Linked DNA regions of Homo sapiens. The protein of the gene in region 1 interacts with the protein of each later gene in a pairwise test. Each region holds a gene or a part of one and is shown on either strand. Other genes may lie near its edges. The genes, in order: CDH15 and SGTA.

The links.
Region 2: the proteins of CDH15 (region 1) and SGTA interact in binary tests that used the Homo sapiens proteins (3 or more experiments, as listed by UniProt).

What each region holds. Positions count from the first base shown.
Region 1 is NC_000016.10:89,192,213-89,196,018, forward strand, and holds the end of CDH15 (cadherin-15 preproprotein), read left to right. Parts: coding exon 1-232; intron 233-1,257; coding exon 1,258-1,394; intron 1,395-1,542; coding exon 1,543-1,701; intron 1,702-2,649; coding exon 2,650-2,943; 3' UTR 2,944-3,280; downstream 3,281-3,806. Other genes in the region: SLC22A31 (putative solute carrier family 22 member 31), read right to left, coding at 3,787-3,806. UniProt on the Homo sapiens protein: Cadherins are calcium-dependent cell adhesion proteins. They preferentially interact with themselves in a homophilic manner in connecting cells; cadherins may thus contribute to the sorting of heterogeneous cell types.
Region 2 is NC_000019.10:2,773,271-2,777,076, reverse strand, and holds part of SGTA (small glutamine-rich tetratricopeptide repeat-containing protein alpha), read left to right. Parts: intron 1-3,806. UniProt on the Homo sapiens protein: Co-chaperone that binds misfolded and hydrophobic patches-containing client proteins in the cytosol. Mediates their targeting to the endoplasmic reticulum but also regulates their sorting to the proteasome when targeting fails.

The DNA.
Region 1 (3,806 bases):
GCGCGCCTGCGGCCGCGACACCAGGTCCCCGAAGGCCTGCACCGCCTCAGCCTGCTGCTCCGGGACTCGGGGCAGCCGCCCCAGCAGCGCGAGCAGCCTCTGAACGTGACCGTGTGCCGCTGCGGCAAGGACGGCGTCTGCCTGCCGGGGGCCGCAGCGCTGCTGGCGGGGGGCACAGGCCTCAGCCTGGGCGCACTGGTCATCGTGCTGGCCAGCGCCCTCCTGCTGCTGGGTGAGTGAGCGCCCCGCCTCCACCTGGACCCTCGGACCCTCGGACCCTCCTCCCCAGGCCGTCCCCTGCTAACCAGCCACGCCGCTTCCTCCCCAGCTCCGCCTCCTCCCTAACCCCGCCCCCTCATTACCAGCCACGCCGCTTCCTCCCCAGCTCCGCCTCCTCCCTAACCCCGCCCCGTCATTACCAGCCACGCCGCTTCCTCCCCAGCTCCGCCTCCTCCCTAACCCCGCCCCCTCATTACCAGCCACGCCGCTTCCTCCCCAGCTCCGCCTCCTCCCTAACCCCGCCCCCTCATTACCAGCCTCGCCGCTTCCTCCCCAGCTCCGCCTCCTCCCTAACCCCGCCCCCTCATTACCAGCCTCGCCGCTTCCTCCCCAGCTCCTCCTCCTCCCTAACCCCGCCCCTCAGTACCAGCCACGCCGCTTCCTCCCCAGCTCCTCCTCCTCCGTAACCCCGCCCCCTCAGTACCAGCCACGCCCCTTCCTCCCCAGTTCCACCTCCTCCGCAACACCACCCACTCATTACCAGCCACGCCGCTTCCACCCAACCCGCCCCCTGCTCGCCAACCCCGCCCCCTCATTACTAGCCACGCCCCTTCCTCCCCAGCTCCGCCTCCTCCCTAACCCCGCCCCCTCATTACCAGCCACGCCCCTTCTCCACTGCCGCCTCCTCCCCAACACCACCCACTCATTACCAGCCACGCCGCTTCCACCCAACCCGCCCCCTGCTCGCAAACCCCGCCCCCTCGTTGCCAGCCACGCCTCTTCCCCAAGCCGGCCTCTCCTTACCAGCCAAGCTCCCTCCTCCACAACCCGGCCCCCTCCTCCCTAACCTCGCGGCTTCCTCCCCAACCCCGGCTCCTCCATGCCAGACACGCCCTTTCCCCAACTGCCGCCCCCTCAACCCCACCCCTGCTTACCAGCCTTGCCCCGCCCCGCCCCCTCCTCCCACCTCCTTCGCAGCCCGGCCCCCTGAAGTCGCGCCCTGTGCCTGGCCCCAGCCTGCGTCCCCTCATTCCCCAGTGCTGGTCCTGCTCGTGGCACTCCGGGCGCGGTTCTGGAAGCAGTCTCGGGGCAAGGGGCTGCTGCACGGCCCCCAGGACGACCTTCGAGACAATGTCCTCAACTACGATGAGCAAGGAGGCGGGGAGGAGGACCAGGTGAGGGGGCAGGTGTGGGTGGGGAGGGGTCCCCAAGGAACCCAGGTCGCGGGCCTTCTTACAACAAGCTGGCCAGGAGCCTGTACCTGAGACCTCCACCAGGGCCACCCGAGGGATGCCTGGCTCTGTTCCACCTCCTCGCCCACAGGACGCCTACGACATCAGCCAGCTGCGTCACCCGACAGCGCTGAGCCTGCCTCTGGGACCGCCGCCACTTCGCAGAGATGCCCCGCAGGGCCGCCTGCACCCCCAGCCACCCCGAGTGCTGCCCACCAGCCCCCTGGACATCGCCGACTTCATCAATGATGTAGGTGCTCCTGGGGACACCCCAGTACACACAGGCACGCACAGGTGCACACACACATGCACATGTACACACCTGCACATGCATGCAAGAACCGGCGCCTGCATGCACTTATGGGCCGTCCCAGAGCACCGCAGAGGAAGATGGTGTGCGGGCGGGAGTGTGGAAGCCCCGCTGCCACCGTCCAAACTGGGCCCTCAGCCTCCACCCGCGACGCGGGTCTTTGCACAGATGGAGTGGCGATGGCCACAGACCCATCCACTGCCCCGTGTCCACCATGGAGGGGGTGGGGGAGCCCCGGGAGCATCCCCTGGGCTTCGGTGGCTGTCAGCGGAATCAGGGCCTCCATAGAAGACCCTCTGGACACAGCGTTAATGATTCCCTGCCATCCACAGGATGAATGTGCACACGGGGAATCTGGGGTGTGGGGCGCACAGGGAACCCTCCTCTGTGCCTGTCTGCACCTGTAGCACCTGGCTCAGAGAAAGCCCCCAGCCAAGGTGTACACCCCCGGTTAGGAGCGTGTGTCCCCACGAGCTGAGAGGACAGACATGCAGACAGAGCCTCCGAAAGGCAGACGGGCCGTTCTGCGGATGGGGGTGTCCAGGAGGCTCGGGTTCTGCCTTGAGTGGACAAGGGCCACGGGGAGGAAGAGACCAGGGTGAGGGGGAGCAACCCCTTCCCACCTTGCTGGGGCAGGGCAGAGCCCCGGGGGACGGGCTGGCCGCTGGCCTAATACTGAGGAAGGGGGTAGTCCGTGGCACCCTCTTCACAACCCTGCTGCTGTGCCCTCAGGACGCTTTGCCTCCCCTCAGACCTCGCCCCCGGACGTGGGCAGCTTCCCCTTCCTGAGCCCGTGCCTTGAGCTGACTTTGCCCTGGGCTGTGGCCACGGCGGTGGGGCACCCGCTGGCCCCTCCATGTGTCTTGAGCTCTCCGGGCCTCTTTATAGGGCTTGGAGGCTGCAGATAGTGACCCCAGTGTGCCGCCTTACGACACAGCCCTCATCTATGACTACGAGGGTGACGGCTCGGTGGCGGGGACGCTGAGCTCCATCCTGTCCAGCCAGGGCGATGAGGACCAGGACTACGACTACCTCAGAGACTGGGGGCCCCGCTTCGCCCGGCTGGCAGACATGTATGGGCACCCGTGCGGGTTGGAGTACGGGGCCAGATGGGACCACCAGGCCAGGGAGGGTCTTTCTCCTGGGGCACTGCTACCCAGACACAGAGGCCGGACAGCCTGACCCTGGGGCGCAACTGGACATGCCACTCCCCGGCCTCGTGGCAGTGATGGCCCCTGCAGAGGCAGCCTGAGGTCACCGGGCCCGACCCCCCTGGGCCTGGGGCAGCCTCCTTCCTGTAGGCGAGGGCCCAAGTCTGGGGGCAGAACCTGAGTGTGGATGGGGCGGCCAGGAAGAGGCCCCTTCCTGCCGGGGTGGGAAGAGTTTCTCTCCATCGGCCCCATGCGGGTCACCTCCCTAGTCCCACCTTTGCCTCCTACCAGTGAACCTCATCTTTGTATGAAAGACAGCAACCTCCTGGGTAAATCTGAATGAAAAACGTGCTAGTCTCTTTCATGCAGGACGGGCGCCCACTGCCACACTGACCATGAGGGGGATGGGGCCAGTGAGGCCTGGCCTGGCAGGGACCTGAGGGCCAGGCCCCCATACCACCCTGCTTGGCTGGGGCAGGAGGCGGCCGGGGGCTGCCACTACCTGGACAGGGGCTATGGAGCAGCCGCTGACACCCTGGCTCCTTGCTGGTGAGCCCAGAGGTGGGGAGCAGGCACAGGTGAGACCCTTCCAGGCCCCAGGTGTGGCCTGAGGGAAGAACCAGGGAGGACGCCAAGTTCCACAGAAGCCTTTATCCTCCACACCTACTGGGTGTGGCTGGGGGGAGACCCAGGGCCTCCCAGTGCCTGGGGCCTGGCTGGAGACACCTTCACGCTGTCCCCACGGCTCCACCTGCACTGAGACACGGGCTTCTGAGAGGAATGTGTCTGCCCTGGACCAGACGTCTGGGGTACTCAGCCATGCCCCAGGCCTTGACTTTGGTCCCATCCTGGCTCCCAGGGCCACCAGGCAGGACTAGTGCTGCTCGGGGGTGT
Region 2 (3,806 bases), on another chromosome or scaffold:
TGGTCAGGCTGGTCTCGAACTCCTGATGTCAGGTGATCCGCCTGCCTCGGCTTCCCAAAGTGTTGGGATTACAGGCATGAGCCACTGTGCCCGACCAGTCTTTCTTTTTTTTTTGAGACGGAGTTTTGCTCTGCCACCCAGGCTGGAGTGCAGTGGCTCTATCGCAGCTCACTGCAGCCTCCACCTCCCGGGTTCAAGCGATTCTCCCGCCTCAGCCTCCTGAGTAGCTGGGACTACAGGTGTGCGCCACCATGATTGGCTAATTTTGTTTGCATTTTTAGTAGAGATGGGGTTTCACCATGTTGGTCTCAAACTCCTGACCTCAGGTGATCCACCTGCCTCTGCCTCCAAAAGTTCTGGGATTACAGGCGTGAGCCACCATGCCAGGCCAAAAATTACCATCTTAATCAGTTATAAATGCACAGTTCAGTGGCTTTAAGCACATTCACACAGCTATGTAGCCATCGCCACCATCATCTCCAGAAGTTTCTCATCTCCCCAGGCTGAAATTCTGTCCCCATGAAACATTCACTCCCCAGCCCCTGGCACCCCCAATTCCACTTTTGGTCTCTGTGAATCCAACGACTCTAGGGACCGCCTAGGAGGGGAGTCACACAGGTTTTGTACCTTTGTTTCTGGCTTATTTCACTGAGTGCGACGTCCTCAAGGTCCGCCCATGTTGTAGCCTGGTCAGGATTTCCTTTTCATGGCTGCGTAGCGTTCCGTCGTGTGGCTAGGCCACATTGTGTTGATCCACTCACCTGTCCGTGGACACTTGGGCTGTTTGCTTTTGGCTATTGTAATGCTGTTGTCAAAACGTGCTTAAAAATAAAACAAAAGAAACTCCGTAAACCAAAAATCTTCACCTTTCGGGTGGCATGTGTCTGTTTTCCTTGGGCTTGGGGGTCAGGAGACCTGACTGGTTTGCTCTCTGAACCCTGTTGGCCGGGGCGGATGACGTCAGCTTTTGTGGTTTCACTTTCTGGTGGTGGTTGACTGCCGTGGGCCCTGATGTGTCGTACATGAGATCTTTGGATTCTGGGACTGGCTGCCCGCCGGCTCTAGGCAGTCCTGATCCCAGACCTCAAAGTTCTGGGCTGTCCATTGTGTCCTGAGATGGGGGCGGAAAACTCATTACCATCCCGCAGGAGCTTTCAGGAAGACCGTAACTCCCTGTCCAGCGACACAAAACACAGCTCTTGTAGATTTCTCCCCCTTTAAAACATTGAGCTGTGATTCCCACACCGCTGTGATCCCCACACCGTGAAATTCAGTGGCATTTGGTGCCTTCACAGGGTTGTGCAACCATCACCACTCTCTGGTTCCAGAGCTGTCTCATCGCCCCAAAAGGGAGCAAGGAAGCTGGTCCCCACCAGCTGTCACTCCCCTTCCCCTCCCCAAGCCCCGGCACCCACGCGTCTCCTTCCTGTCTCTGGATGGGCCTGTCCTGGACATTTCATAGAAATGGAGTCGGTGTCACACCCTGTGTGTGCTTTGGGTCTGGCTCTTTTGCTCTCTGTTTTGTTTTGTTTTTTAATGATTGCTGATGGATGTTGCTTTCCCTGAAAGGGAAACAAAGCTGTGGGCACACCCAGTGTGTCTGGGACTATGCTTGTTTAGTGGCGTGGAGGTCCACGTCGCCGGTGTCATCTGAGTCTGACGTCAGCCACTGTTTAAAGCGTGGCGGGCCAATGCCTTGCTTGTCTCTGGCGCGGGGTGGGTTATGCGGTCAGGCAGCCCACGCCTCATTTTCTAGGGGGTGGTGGCTGTTCACCTCATGTAGAGGCATTTTAGGGGAACCAAGACACTGAACGCCTCTGATCTTGAGTGTGGGGGCAGGTCAGGCGCCTGCCGGGCGCGGATCCTGCCGTGCCTGTGGCTCCAGTGGCCTTGAGTGAACACCTCCATCCCCAGTCCTGCCGCATAGGTCACTGCGCCGAGGTCATGAGACGGTGTTGTGTCAAGGGCCTGGTGCACCCACAGGCTCTTCAGGTCCTCCTCTTCTAGTCCAGCTTTCTCCCAGTGGGAGCTGTGGATGTTGAGGCCGGATCATCCTCTGGGATGGAGCCGTCCTGGGCACTCCAGGGCACTGAGCAGCGTCCCTGGCCTCCCCCCACTCCATGTGAGACAACACCAAGTGTCTCAGCACATCCATCGAGAACCGCTGGTCTGGGAGAGAGACAGAATCTGGAGAGACATGCACGCACACACACACATGCGCGCGCACACAGCTTCAGCAAAATCCAGTGGGTCAGTAGAATCCACGGCTTTCCTCAGCATTTGCCTCCTGGAGGAGGCCGGGTATGGTGGCTCACACCTGTGATCCCAGCGCTTTGGGAGGCCAGGGTGGGAGGATTGCTTGAGGCCAGGAGTTTGCCAATGTTCATGGGCAGGTATTTTACATAGTTGACGTTCTAGGTCTGCGAAGTGCTCAGGTAGGTCATCTGCATGGTTTTAATGCTTTTGGTGCCCTGCCTCTGATGCTGTCTACACGGGGATGGTTGTAGGTGAAGGCCTCTGTGTACGCGTGCACGGGTGTTAACCTACGTGTCTCGGGCCATTAGACATCTGTGCACTTAAAGTTAAAATGGACATTTGCATAGACGTGATAGGAAGTGTCGTTTTCTTATAAAAGAAGCTGCCCCTCGGGCAGCTGGCTCCTGGGACCGCAGCACAGTGAGCAACGCGCAGCTGCTCCCTCCCTCCGTGTCCCTCGGCCACCGCCCTTCACTGCTCCCTTCCGTGTGATGACAGCCCGTTTGTTCTCCTGTCTATGTGATCCTGGGCATGCGACCACGCGTCCCTGCCCAACCTGGCTCAGTTCAGCTGGAGACAGGGCCGACCCGCTTGTTGGAGTCGTCACGAGGACTGAGGTGCGTCCTGAGATGCCTGCTTGCCAGGTGTTAGTGTCGGTTTGCTGGGGCCGCGGTGACAGAGTGCCATAGACCAGGCAGCTGAAACAGAGTTCATCGTCTCTCAGTCCTGGAGGCCGGAAGTCCATGATCAAGGTTCTGTCGGGGCTCGTTCCTTGTGAGGACGTGAGGGCAATCTGGTGTCCCTGCCGTGTGGCCGCGTCACCCATCTCTGCCCTCGGTGTCCCTGCCCTGTGGCCGCGTCACCCATCTCTGCCCTCGGAGTCCCTGCCGTGTGGCCGCGTCACCCATCTCTGCCCTCGGAGTCCCTGCCGTGTGGCCGTGTCACCCACCTCTGCCCTCGGTGTCCCTGCCGTGTGGCCGCGTCACCCACCTCTGCCCTCGGTGTCCCTGCCGTGTGGCCGCGTCACCCACCTCTGCCCTCGGTGTCCCCGCCGTGTGGCCGCGTCACCCACCTCTGCCCTCGGTGTCCCCGCCGTGTGGCCGCGTCACCCATCTCTGCCCTCGGTGTCCCTGCCGTGTGGCCGCGTCACCCATCTCTGCCCTCGGTGTCCCTGCCCTGTGGCCGCGTCACCCATCTCTGCCCTCGGAGTCCCTGCCGTGTGGCCGTGTCACCCACCTCTGCCCTCGGTGTCCCTGCCGTGTGGCCGCGTCACCCACCTCTGCCCTCGGTGTCCCTGCCCTGTGGCCGCGTCACCCACCTCTGCCCTCGGTGTCCCTGCCGTGTGGCCGCGTCACCCATCTCTGCCCTCGGTGTCCCTGCCGTGTGGCCGCGTCACCCACCTCTGCCCTCGGAGTCCCTGCCGTGTGGCCGCGTCACCCACCTCTGCCCTCGGTGTCCCTGCCGTGTGGCCGCGTCACCCACCTCTGCCCTCGGTGTCCCCGCCGTGTGGCCGCGTCACCCATCTCTGCCCTCGGTGTCCCTGCCCTGTG